Linked DNA regions of Homo sapiens: regions 1 and 2 are each linked to region 3. The links come from fine-mapping of genetic effects on gene expression. A gene starts in region 3. Each other region holds a variant in brackets. All regions are shown on one strand. Distances are from middle to middle.

Evidence for each region. PIP is the estimated chance that this variant, and not a neighbour inherited with it, causes the effect. A credible set is the group of variants that fine-mapping cannot tell apart.
Region 1: its variant is the best candidate, but not a certain one, in a credible set for the expression of ZNF660 in whole blood (TOPMed, PIP 0.80).
Region 2: its variant is the best candidate, but not a certain one, in a credible set for the expression of ZNF660 in cerebellar hemisphere (GTEx, PIP 0.76).

Annotation. Positions count from the first base shown.
Region 1 is chr3:44,629,980-44,634,123 of GRCh38, forward strand. It overlaps ZNF660-ZNF197 (ZNF660-ZNF197 readthrough), which reads left to right. Exons shown (of 8, transcript NR_147692.2): 4 at 835-967; 5 at 1,083-1,242; 6 at 2,126-2,217; 7 at 2,494-2,620. ZNF197 (zinc finger protein 197) reads left to right here. Exons shown (of 6, transcript NM_006991.5): 3 at 1,083-1,242; 4 at 2,126-2,217; 5 at 2,494-2,620. All of the region lies in intron 2 of ZKSCAN7-AS1 (ZKSCAN7 ZNF cluster antisense RNA 1), which reads right to left. Among named protein-coding and RNA genes, the nearest start is that of ZNF197, 7.0 kb to the left of the region's middle. The variant G/C (reference allele first, on the strand shown) is at 1,959.
Region 2 is chr3:44,558,893-44,563,011 of GRCh38, forward strand. All of the region lies in intron 2 of ZKSCAN7 (zinc finger with KRAB and SCAN domains 7), which reads left to right. The region is part of intron 2 of ZKSCAN7-AS1 (ZKSCAN7 ZNF cluster antisense RNA 1); the gene reads right to left. Among named protein-coding and RNA genes, the nearest start is that of ZKSCAN7, 5.8 kb to the left of the region's middle. The variant G/A (reference allele first, on the strand shown) is at 2,236.
Region 3 is chr3:44,583,000-44,587,143 of GRCh38, forward strand. ZNF660 (zinc finger protein 660) reads left to right here and starts at 1,965. Exons shown (of 3, transcript NM_173658.4): 1 at 1,965-2,008; 2 at 3,106-3,214. It overlaps ZNF660-ZNF197 (ZNF660-ZNF197 readthrough), which reads left to right and starts at 1,965. Exons shown (of 8, transcript NR_147692.2): 1 at 1,965-2,008; 2 at 3,106-3,214. All of the region lies in intron 2 of ZKSCAN7-AS1 (ZKSCAN7 ZNF cluster antisense RNA 1), which reads right to left. It also overlaps a transcript of ZKSCAN7 not described here.

The DNA.
Region 1 (4,144 bases), 47 kb after region 3:
GCTGAGGTGGGAGGATCATTTGAGGCCAGGAGTTCAAGACCAGCCTGGACAACATGGGAAGACCCCATCTCTACAAAAAATTTAAAAATTAGCCAGATGTAGTGGCGAGTGCCTATAGTCCCAGCTACTTAGAAGGCTGAGGTGGGAGGATCACTTGAACCCAGGAGGTTGAGGCAGCAGTGAGCTATGATTACACCATTGCACTCCAGCCTGGGTGATGGAGTGAGATCCTGTCTTTAAATAAATAAATAAATAAAATGGCAGTAGCATAACAAGAATGAAGCTTTCCACATCTTGGTAAGATCTCCTCTTGTGTGCCCTACTAGGGATCTGCAAGCCAAGGGATTGGGTTAAGATATTTGCTTCTGATAAGATTTATATCCTTGACCATTAGATTGGGATCTTAATGTAGCCTCTCATGTGTGTGAGATTTCTTTTTGTACATCTGTAGCTCACTAGAAACATTTCTGTATAAGACGTCTGAATCATAACTCAAACTTGGGTGTGGCATTAAGGATGGGCTTGTTTCTTTTAATAATAACGTGAACAATTTTAGAGCTATATATTTCGTTACAAATTACTAATACATCCTCATTTGAGAGATAAGGAAACTGAGGCAGATGTCTAGCTGGCCGCAAAACCAAGTGTCTTGGTGCCAATTTTAGTGTTAGTTGTATTTGAGCACAAAGGGCTAGGTAAAGGGGTCAATAAGTAGATGGTAAATAAGTAGAAGAGATGTGACTGAAGTCCGATCTAAAACTTAAGTCTGAAGCTAAAATCCATGCTCTTAATTACTGCTTATTACTTCCCATTCCCTCCTTAACCCACACCCAGGTCTGGCTTCTGTTCCCACCGTTGTGTACAGTCTCCTCTGGGAGAGGTCACCAGTGCCATGAGTGGGGCTCGAGGGCAGCTCCATTGTTCTCAATGCAAAGCTTTACTGCTGTTTTGATGCTCCATACTTGAGGTGGGTCTCTCTGATCTCACAGTTGTAGATTGTGGGCAGAAAGAGGTCCACAGTGCTTAGGTGAGTCCATTTTCTTAAGAAACAAGAAGAGCTAGCTTATTTTACTTGTTTCCAGGTTCCAGTCCTTGTCAAGGATCAGGACACTCTCCAGAAGGTGGTGAGTGCCCCAGGAACAACACTTCCTCCTGTACTTCCTGGCAGCCACATAGCAGCTGAAATTTGCCCGCATCCTCCTACTGACCTAGTGGCATTCAACCTCCAGGATCCTCAGCATGGTATTTACTCAGTGCTCTGGGTTTTGGGCTGTTCAAGGACCCTTCCTGTGGCTCATCCCCCTACTTCCAGGGAGTTGCTTCCTCTGCTACCCTGTCTAGGAGTCTCTTACAGTGCCAATTTCTTTCTGCTGTTCTGTTGTTCTCTCCTTCTTTCTTGGGCCCCTCTGAGCTTGTATACATCCCCCCTTTTTTTTTTTGAGACGGAGTCTCGCTCTGTCGCCCAGGCTGGAGTGCAGTGGCGCGATCTCAGCTCACTGCAACCTCCGCCTCCTGGGTTTACGCCATTCTCCTACGTCAGCCTCCTGAGTAGCTGGGACTACAGGTGCCCGCCACTGTGCCCGGCTAGTTTTTTAATTTTTTTTTTAGTAGAAACGGGGTTTCACTGTGTTAGCCAAGATGGTCTTGATCTGACCTTGTGATCTGCCCGCCTTGGCCTCCCAAAGTGCTGGGATTACAGGTGTGAGCCACTGCACCCGGCCATTTTTGTTTTTTTTTTTTGAGATGGAGTCTCGCTCTGTTGCCAGGCTGGAGTGCAATGGCACAATCTCGGCTCACTGCAACCTCCGCCTCCCAGGTTCAAGCCATTCTCCTGCCTCAGCCTCCCGAGTACCTGGGACTACAGGCACGTGCCACCACGCCCAGCTAATTTTTTTGTATTTTTAGTAGAGACAGGGTTTCACCATGTTGGCCAGGATGGTCGTAATCTCTTGACCTTG[G/C]GAGCCACCCACCTCGGCTTCCCAAAGCTCTGGGATTACAGGTGTGAGCCACCACGCCCTGCCTTGTATCATTCTTACTGCTACTCTTTGTGTTATTCCAGCTCTGCAAGTGGGGTCACTCAGAAAAGGTTTGTAGGTCCCATATGCAGCTTTTTCTCCCTCCTCAGATTCTCCTGCCCCTGAAGCTTCTGCCCTTTCCCAGGAAGAGAACCCAAGAAATCAATTAATGGCACTTATGCTCCTAACAGCCCAGCCCCAGGTAAGGTTTGCATCCTCTTTCCTTCCCATCTGCACAGCGTAACTGTGGCTGAAGTGCCCTCTCTCATCCTTGTGCTTCAATGTCCAGTCAGTTCCCATTTCTAAATCAGGGTCTATGCTATTGGAAGACAGACTTTACATGTGATCTCCTTATGTCTCCCTGATGTCTGTTATGCACTCATGGCCTCACAGTGTATCCCTTCCCCAGAAGTGAAGGGAACCTTTCGACAGGCAAGTTCCTGGGCATTGGTAATCTCACACACACTTGTTATTTCAGGAGTTGGTGATGTTCGAGGAGGTGTCAGTATGCTTCACTTCAGAGGAATGGGCATGTCTGGGCCCAATCCAGAGGGCCTTGTACTGGGATGTGATGCTGGAGAATTATGGAAATGTGACCTCCCTAGGTAAGGATTCTTCTTTCTATGATGCTTACCTTTATTTCACCAGCCTTTATTTGTTTTCTGATTATAAAAGTAGCATATATGTATTTTGGAAAACACCGAATATTACAAAGAAGAAAAAAACCTTCCTTAACATCGCTATTTCCAGATAACTATTATCATTTTGATATATTACCTTTCTGTTTTTTCTATATGTTTGAGGGATTTTTTACATTGTTCCAAAGTGTGTGTGTGTGTGTGTCTGTGCACAGTTTTATAGCTTGCTTTCCTTGTGTGTGTTCTCACATGTTACAAACTCTTTGCAGTTATTATCTATATTGGCTATATGATTTGTACCATAATTCAGTCAGCCATTCCTTATTTTAGATAACTGCTATAATAATCATCTGTCTCTGTGCCTAAGGCCTTCTAAAATGTTTTATTATTTTTAGAGGTACAATTACTGGGCATAAGTGTTTGAATGGCTTTGAGGCTCTTGCTTCATATTGCCAAATTACTTTCTGTAGCGATCCCTGTCCTCTCTGTTCTTAGAAGTGGTGTATAAGAACACTCCTTTTGCTCTGCCTTCATTTGTACTGAGTAATCCCACAATTCTAAATTGTTGCTAATATATTTTTAAAGTTATATATATTCTAAAATAGATTTCTTTGATAAATAATAAAAGAATATTTCAAAACAATTTTTAGCCATTTTTGCTACCAGCAGACATTAAATACCTATCATGGTACAGCTGTGAAAATGATGTGATTCGGCCCTTAAATAGCTTACAATGGTTTAGGAGATGATTACAGAGATATTAAATATACAAGGCAGAGTAAAATAATTGGTACAAGAGTGGCATAAACCTGGTGTGACAGAAATGCAGAAAACGGGGCAATCAGTTTCATTCCTAGGGATTAGCAAAGGCCATAAAGGAGGTAGCATTTATACTGGAACTTGAAGAAAAGAGTAGAATTCTCTTTGGAGAAATCAACGTTCAGAACTGGGTAATCAGCCACAGGAACTAACTTTGACTGAAATACAGATTTACAGTATCAGTTTAAATGGCTGCAGAGTATTGCATGGTCTGTGTATCATGCTTTACATTGACAGCTTTATGATTCTGAATGTTTCTATTCAAGAACATTACATAACATTCCATTTTTTCTGTACTGCTTTTGTATGCATCGGGCATGTTTTAAAATTGCCTAGATCTTCCATATTTCTGGTAATATTTATTCTTTGGAATTGGAGTCTTTTCTGTATTTTCTAATTGACTGTCATTTGCATATATGAAAGTACTTTTTGTTTGTGTTAATTTTGTACCTAGCAACTTTATTTTATTATCTTTAATAATTTAAACTGTACATTTTCACACTTTTGAGACTGTATCCTTTAGTATCTCAGTAGTGGCAGTGGTGGGTGAAACAGTCTGTAGATTTTATACTTTGATACATATTACCAAATTATTTTCTACCAATGATACTTGAATTAAACTCCCACAGAAAGAACACACAGGAGAGCCAATTTTCCCTGGATATGCTCATG
Region 2 (4,119 bases), 24 kb before region 3:
CTTAGCCTCCTGAGTAGCTGGTACCACAGTCATGTGCCACCACACCAGGCTAATTTTTTTTATTGTAGACATGTGGTCTTGTTATGTTGCCCAGGCTTGTTCTTGAATTCCTGGCTTCAGATGATATTCTTGCCTTGGCCTCCCAAAGCACTGCGATTACAGGCATGAGCTACCACGCCTGGCCTGGAATTTCTTCTTCATGGAACTTTTAGCTTTGCTTTTAAGGGCTTACAACTGATTGAATCAGGCTCATGCATTCATCCGTTATCTAGTATAATCTCCCTTACTTAAACTTATTATGTACTTTAATCACATTTTTAAAATAGTTTACAGCAACACCTGGATTGATGTTTGATTAGTACCAAGTTGACACATCAAAAGATCATCACACCATGGATAAGTTAGTTCTTCCTAATGAGTTTCAAATTGTTCCCCTATAATAGAAGCAGGGTGAACTAGAGGTCCCCTCTACCCCTTTGTACTTTATCAGGGGAAAACAGTATAGAGAATTTCCCAAGTACCCAATATATCATTTTATTCAATGCTTTTTTTCCTAGAGAGTCTCACCCTATCACCCAGGCTGGAGTGTGGTGGCACAATCTTGGTTCACTGCAACCTCTGCCTCCTGGGCTCAAGTGATCCTCCCACCTCAGCTTCCCTAGTAGCTGGGACCATAGGTGTGAGCCACCACACCTGGCTAATTTTTGTGTTTTTAGTAGAGACGGGGTTTCACCATGTTGTCCAGGGTGGTCTTGAACTCCTGAGCTCAAGAAAGCCACCTGCCTCATCCTCCCAAAGTGCTGGAATTACAGGTGTGAGCCATCACGCTCAGCCTATTCAATGCTTTTTAAAAAATGATTACATATCACTAGGGAATCAGTTCTAGTTGATCAGGATCCTGGGGCTAGACATTTTTCCAGGATTATTAGCAGTACACATTTGTCATTATCAACCATCATTTTCTTTGTGTAAACAAGTAAGCACATATGAGTAAATCAACCATCACAAGGGTCTAGAGAGCAGCTGGGCCAGCCATGGCAATGACAGGTGGCTGAAGACATATTTAGAGAACCATTTAGTGAGGGTGGCAGAAGGAAAATGTCCCTATTTCCTGCTTGGTTTTGCTTAAGAAGTTAATGCTTCCTCCATTAAAACTTTTAGTGCTTTATCCAGCTAGCAGCCTCAGAAAAGGGTGACTGTTGAGTCACAACCCAAGAAAATGACTAACAGTAGACAGTGAGGCAGCTGAATGCTCATGGCTCCAGCTTGGGTGTAGGGTCTTTGGAGTCCATTTCTTAATCTCCCACTACTGTCAGTGTTATGTTTTCTGACACGAAGACATAAGGGCAGGACTATCTTTCATCAGCAGGCGTTCAGAAAATGTTTACAGAATGGCTAAATGAATAAACAAGCTTTTCCATGGAAGTTTGCCAAGAGGAGATTAAGGAGGGTCCAGGTAAATTGGAGTCATTTTGCTTATCAGGAGCAAGCCACTTTATTGCTGCAGAAGGAGCATGTACATGTGTGCACATTGTGGCTGGGAAAGGTTTGTATAGTGATCCCTGCTGGGCTGCAGAGTCATGCAACTTGCAGAATTCTTTTGTTTCCTGTATCTTTTTTTTTTTTTTTTTTTTTTTTGAGACAAAGTCTCACTCTGTTGCCCAGGCTGGAGTGCAGTGACACAATCTCAGCTCACTGCAAGCTCCGCCTCCTTCACGCCATTCTCCTGCCTCAGCCTCCTGAGTAGCTGGGACTACAGGTGCCTGCCACCACGCCCAGCTAATTTTTTGTATTTTTAGTAGAGACAGGGTTTCACCATGTTAGCCAGAATGGTTTCGATCTCCTGACCTCATGATCCTCCCGCCTCGTTCTCCCAAAGTGCTGGGATTACAGGCATGAGCCACCACGCCTGGCCTGTTTCCTGTATCTTTTTTCATCTCCTGCCAGGGTTACAAAACAGGCAGTGCAGTAATCATTATCTCCATTTGACAAGTGAAGTGAGCACATGTAGTAAGCATTCCCTTGCCCGAAAGATTTAGCTGAGGTGTGGTTGTTTCTGATTACCATCAAGTGGGAGGACCAGGATTTTCCATCTCCCTAGTTTCTAAGCCAACAGCTTTTCTCTAGGGTCTTGCTGTGGAATGCCATATTAGAATGAGGTTTTCATGTCTTCAAGGAAGGGAAACCTGTGATTCTGTATTAGTCTGTTTTCACACTGCTATAAAGAACTACCTG[G/A]GTAATTAAAAAGAAAAGAGGTTTAATTGGCCCACAGTTTCACAGGCTTAACAGGAAGCATGACTGGGAGGTCTCAGGAAACCTACAATCATGGCAGAAGGCAAAGAGGAAGGAAGGACCTTCTTCACATTGTGGCAGAAGAGAATGCAGGGGGAAGTGACACATACTTTTAAATGATCAGATCTCATGAGAACCCACAAGAACACCAAGGGGAGATCTACCCCATGATCCAGTCATCTCCCACCAGGCCCCTCCTCCAATTCGTTGTGAGATTTGGGTGGGAACACAAATCTAAACCACTATTATTCTGCCCTGGCCCCTCCCAAATCTCATGTTCTTTTCACATTGCAAAATACAATTATCCCTTCTCAACAGTCCCCCAGACTTAACTCATTTCAGCATTAACTCAAAAGTTCACAGTCCAAAGTCTCATCTGAGACAGGGTAAGTCCCTTCCACCTATGAGCCTGTAAAATAAAAAACTAGTTAGTTACTTCCAAGATACAATGGGGATATAGGCATTGGGTAAATGCTCCCATTCCAAATGGGAGAAATTGGCCAAAACAAAGGGGTTACATGTCCCATGCAAGTCCAAAACCAAGCAGGGCAGTCATTAAGTCATAAAGCTCCAAAATAATCTCCTTTGACTCCATGTCTCACATCCAGGGCATGCTGATGCAAGAGATCAGTTCCCAAGGCCTTGGGCATCCTGGCCCCTGTGGCTCTGCAGGTTATAGCCCCCATGGCTGCAGTCACCAACTGACATTGAGTGCCTGTGCCTTTTCCAGGCACATGGTGCAAGCTGCTTGTGGATTTACCATTCTGGGGTCTGGAGGATGGTGGCCCTCTTCTCACAGCTCCACTAGGGAATGCCTCAGCAAGACTGTGTGGGGGCTCCAACCTTGCATTTCCCCTTCACACTGCCTTAGTAGAGGTTTTTCCATGACAGTTTTGCCCCTGCAGCAGACTTCTGCCTGGACATCCAGGTGTTTCCATACCTCCTCTGAAATCTAGGAGGAGATTCCCAAACCTCAACTCTTGCCTTCTGCACACCTGCAGGCCCAACAACATGTGAAAGCTGCCAGCTTGGGGCTTGCACCCTCTGAGGACACAGCCTGAGCTATACCTTGGCCTCTTTTAGCCACAGCTGGAGCTGGAGTGGCTGGGACACAGGGGACCATGTCCTGAGGCTGCACAGAGCAGCTAGGCCCTGGGCCTAGCCCATGAAACCATTGTTTTCTCCTAGGCCTCCAGGCCTGTGATGAGAGGGGGCTGCTGTGAATGTCTCTAAAATGCCCTGGAGACGTTTTCCCCATTGTGTTGGCTATTAAAATTTGGCTCCTCTTTACTTATTCAAATTTCTGCAGCAGGCTTGAATTTCTCCCCAGAAAACGGGTTTTTCTTTTCTACCACATGGCCGGGCTACAAATTTTCCAAATTTTTATGCTCTGCTTCCCTTTTAAATATAAGTTCCAGTTTCAGATCTCTTTGTTCACAAATATGAGTGGACACTTTTAGAAACAGCCAGGTCACTTCTTGAATGCTTTGCTGCTTAGAAATTTCTTCTGCTAGAGGGCTGGGCGTGGTGGCTCACGCCTGTAATCCCAGCACTTTGGGAGGCTGAGGCAGGTGGATCACGAGGTCAGGAGATCGAGACCACGGTGAAACCCCATCTCTACTAAAAATACAAAAAATTAGCTGGGCATGGCGGCGGGTGCCTGTAGTCCCAGCTACTCGGGAGGCTGAGGCAGGAGAATGGCATGAACCTGGGAGGCGGAGCTTGCAGTGAGCCAAGATCGCGCCACTGCACTCCAGCCTGGGTGACAGAATGAGACTCCATCTCAAAAAACAAAAAAAAAAAAAGGAAATTTCTTCTACTAGATAC
Region 3 (4,144 bases):
CACTTCAATCTCCAGCTCCCGAGTTCAAGCGATTCTCCTGCCTCAGACTCCTGAGTAGCTGGGATTACAGGCGCCTGCCACCATGCCCAGCTAATTTTTGTAATATTTAGTAGAGACGGGGTTTCACCATGTTGGCCAGGCTGGTTTCGAACTCCTGACCTCAGGTGATCCACCCGCCTCAGCCTCCCAAAGTGGTGGGATTACAGGCGTGAGCCACCACACCCAGCCTATTCTTTTTAAGTTTCTTGATGTAGTGGCAGTAGTCTTGTGCTCTTCAGGAGAGTGTCCCGAGTTCTACGTCCCACATCAACTGAGGGTGTGAACTTGTGGAGGACTTTTGTCTGAATCTCTTTTTCAATCTCTATACAATGTGGCGGAGTTGTGCCACCTACATGAGCCAATGGAGAAGAAAGCTCCTGGTATACTTTAAGTACTCAACAATATTAAATACTGAATATTTGTCAATTGACGAAGTACTTCAAAAGCTTGATTCTCAGACTCCTTCTTAGATAAATCATTCCCTAGATTGTCTCATCCTGTCCTGACAACTTCCAAATTTATGTCTTTAGCTGTGATCTCTTCACGGAAGTCCAGACTCCTATTCCAACTGCCTGTTTGGCATTTCATCTTGGATGTTTAATTGGCATCTTTAACACATCCAAAACAAAACTATTAATCCCTCTCCCTAAACCTGTTCCTTTCAAGCTACTCGATTTCTAAAAGACCATCCCATGCTAGTTGCTCAGATCAATAACCATGGAGTCATCAGTAACCAACATTCAATTCATTAGCAAATCATGCAGGCCATGCCTTCAAAATATATGCAGAACCATTTCTCACTACCTGCATCACTTCTAAGCCTGTCCAAGCCACTATCAGTCCTCATCTGGAATATTGTAATGGCCTCTTAATCTCCCTGATTCTACTCTTACCCACCTTCAGACCGTTCTCAACAAGACAGCCAAAGCAAACTAAAAATATAAGTCAAAGAGCAAAATTCATGCAAGGTTTATGTTAGAATGGCTAAGGACAGACAGCAAAGAATTCACAGAATTTATAGTAACAGGCTTCTTGGCTTCTTTCATGTCTCATAGCTAACAAGTCTTTGAATATGTGGTAAGGGAAAAAAAGTTAGATCATGTCGTTCCTCTGTCCCCAAGCCCTCCAGCTGTTATGCAGAGCAAATCCAAAGCCCTTATCATAGTCTACAAGATCCTAAATGTGCACCTCTCCACCCCACTCCTGATTAAAGAATTTTGCTCCTAATGGCCCACTATGGGAATACTCTTTCCCCAGATAGCCACATGCTTCAATTGCCCACTTCCTGTCTCTGCCCTCCCTGTCATCTGTAAAATAGTCCCACCACTATCTCCCTCTCTCCCCTTACTCCCTCTCTCCCCTTACTGCTACGTTCTACATATTTATTTATCATTGTCTCCTTGACTTGAATGTAAACTCAATGGGGCAGAGAGTTCATTTTCTTCACTACTGTATCCGCAGCGCCTGGAACAGTGAGTGACATAGTAGGCACCCAAAACGTCTTTTCATATGCTGCCAATAAACCATAGCTGATCCTGGCTTTGAGGCTGAATGACCCAGATCTGTGGAAGGAAAGATGACCTCTCTGCTCAGCAACCGGAGCTGGGGGTGTAACTTTAGGGAGTCTCAGCCTGAGGCTGGCAGCCTGGCCACCCAGATGCTCGGTCTCTTTCCGCCCTAACCAAGCCCCCTGCCCAGCTTCCACCACTTCCAGGGCCCTCCTCACATTGGCTGAAGTCGCCAAGCCCTTCCATCCAATGATAGGGCAAAGCCCGGAAGGGAGGCAGGGCCAGAGCGTCGGCCGACCGCGCGGGGCTTCTGAGGGGCGGGGGGACTCCAGCCCGCGGGCACAGAGATGTGGAAACCTCACGAAGCCTAGAAGGGCCGGAGGGACAGGCTGGGAGTTAGCTGGGAGTTGCTGACGCAGTTCCTTCTGCGCTTTGTTCAAGATGTGGGTCTGGCGCTTTCGGTGAGGGGTGCTCTACAGTCTGGCGTGGGGGGTCGGGCCGGGTTCTGGGAGCGTGTGGGAGACGCAAGCCAGGAGGCCAGGGCTCCTCTGCGGCTGCCCGCTGCTGAGATGGGCGCGGCAGCCAAGGGGTCGTTGTGGGCCTCCCCTTTCTCTCGTTCAGTGCTGCCCCTTTGTCTTGGGTCCAGTCTCTGACTCCTCGTAGCTGCTCGCTTGGACCAGGCTGGCCGTGGTGACAGCACTGTGTCGTCCCCGCTCCTAGGCAGTGGGCCTTCCGGGTAGTAGCGGTCGAGTCCCGCCTAGGCTCTCAGGACTCCACAGCCCCTGAGTATTTGACTCAAATCACCAGTCCAATATCCCTCCCGTTACCAGTGAGGAACCTGGGGCCCAGAGAAGAGGACGGAGTCTTGCCCAAGGTTACTCATTCATTCATTGATTCATTCAACAAATATTTATTGAGCACTAACCCAGTAGTGTGCTAGGTCCTGGGGTTATGGTTGTGTACAGGACAGAACTAAATTCTAGTAGGGGAGAAATGAAACAAACTTCAAGGGTTAGAAGCAGAGCCTGGGGATCTGGAGGGGGAAACACAAAACATATTTGAGGCTTAGTAATCCTAAGAAATGGGTAAACAGAAAAAAGGAACATTCTTTTTCTAGTGCTCTTTTAAAGACTTGTTTCTTTCTGTCTTCCTAAAGACACTTGACTCAGCAAAGTTCTCCCTCTCATCCCCCTTGTGCAGACTTTCTGTGGAAAGCTGGATTGCAAGGAAGTTCTCCACTGCATTGTATTTTGCAGTTAGATGAGAATATGGAAGCTTTTAGATATCAATGGAGCAGGTGAAAAGGGGAGGCTGTGGTGTGATGGAATTAGGATTTCCTGAAGACACAGAAGGCTTTTTAATCACTCACTAGCTATAGGACCTTGGGCAAGTCGTTCAATCCCTGGGAGCTTCATTCCCTCATCTTTACACTGGAAATGATCCTTCTTACTGCCCACAGTTCTATAGGAAGGGAAGTTACCCAAAGATGGGACACTGCCCTGAGTGTCCACTTGGAATTCAGGGCTCAGAGAACTCAGTCATTTATATCTGTTTACAGTGACTCAAGACCCTCTTAGGAACTTCTTCACTGAACTCAAGGAGGAGATCAGGCAAGATCTGTGCTGTGCAGATCCTTTGGATTGAGGCTGCTGTGCACAGGAATATGGGTGAGTCATTCCATTCTCTCCTGGGCAGGTGAGGCCTAGATTGTGAAGTTAGTCTGGGCACAGGAATCCTGCTTGTGGGCACCAGGGTTGAAAGGGAGCTTCTCTCAGTGGTATTTATCAAACAGGAGAAAAGCACTGAAGTGGGCAGGGGGCCTCTGGACCTTGAGGAGTAGAGTTTTGTTTCAGATGGGAATAAGGGTGATGTAGTAGAACTCAAAATTGGGTGTCATGGGACTTGGATTTGAGTCCCAGCTTTCCTCTAAGTTCCAAGTTTTCCTTCTGTACATTTGGATATAAGACTGGATAGACTGGGAGGTTCCTTCCAGCTCTGACATACTGAGAGTCTCTGAATAGTGGGACCAGGTCAATCTCTTAGGGAATTTAGTCCCTGGGATGACTCTGTTGAGACAGAATTGCCAAGAATGCAAATACACCATTATGGTGTTTCCCAGATAATATGAAGCACAAAAAGGACAAACATGTAGAGGAGGGATGGTAGTAGTGATGTGTGGATTTGGCTCTCAGCATCCCTATGTGCACTCCAGGTGTTAGAATCTTAAACTTGTTTAATTTACCATTTCAAATCAAACAATGCTGACTGAGCCCTCTCTGTGTCAGACACCATGTGGTATCTACAGGCAAATCTCATGGGAACTGCTCTCTGAGGGCATAGAGCTTAATGTATATATTTGAGGATGGACACAGACATACACACAAGCAATTCCAGTATAAGGCAAACTCTATTTTATAGATTTGTTATGGCATTTTTTGGAATACAGAAATTTTTATGTGTCAGATATATCAGCTTTTTCACATGGTGTTAGCCTTTCCCTTGAGGCTTAGGCCTTTCTTCTAATTCTTTTTTTTTCTTGCAATGTTTACATTTCACTTATCCATCCCTTGAATTTATTTTCAGGTATTTCCTCTTAT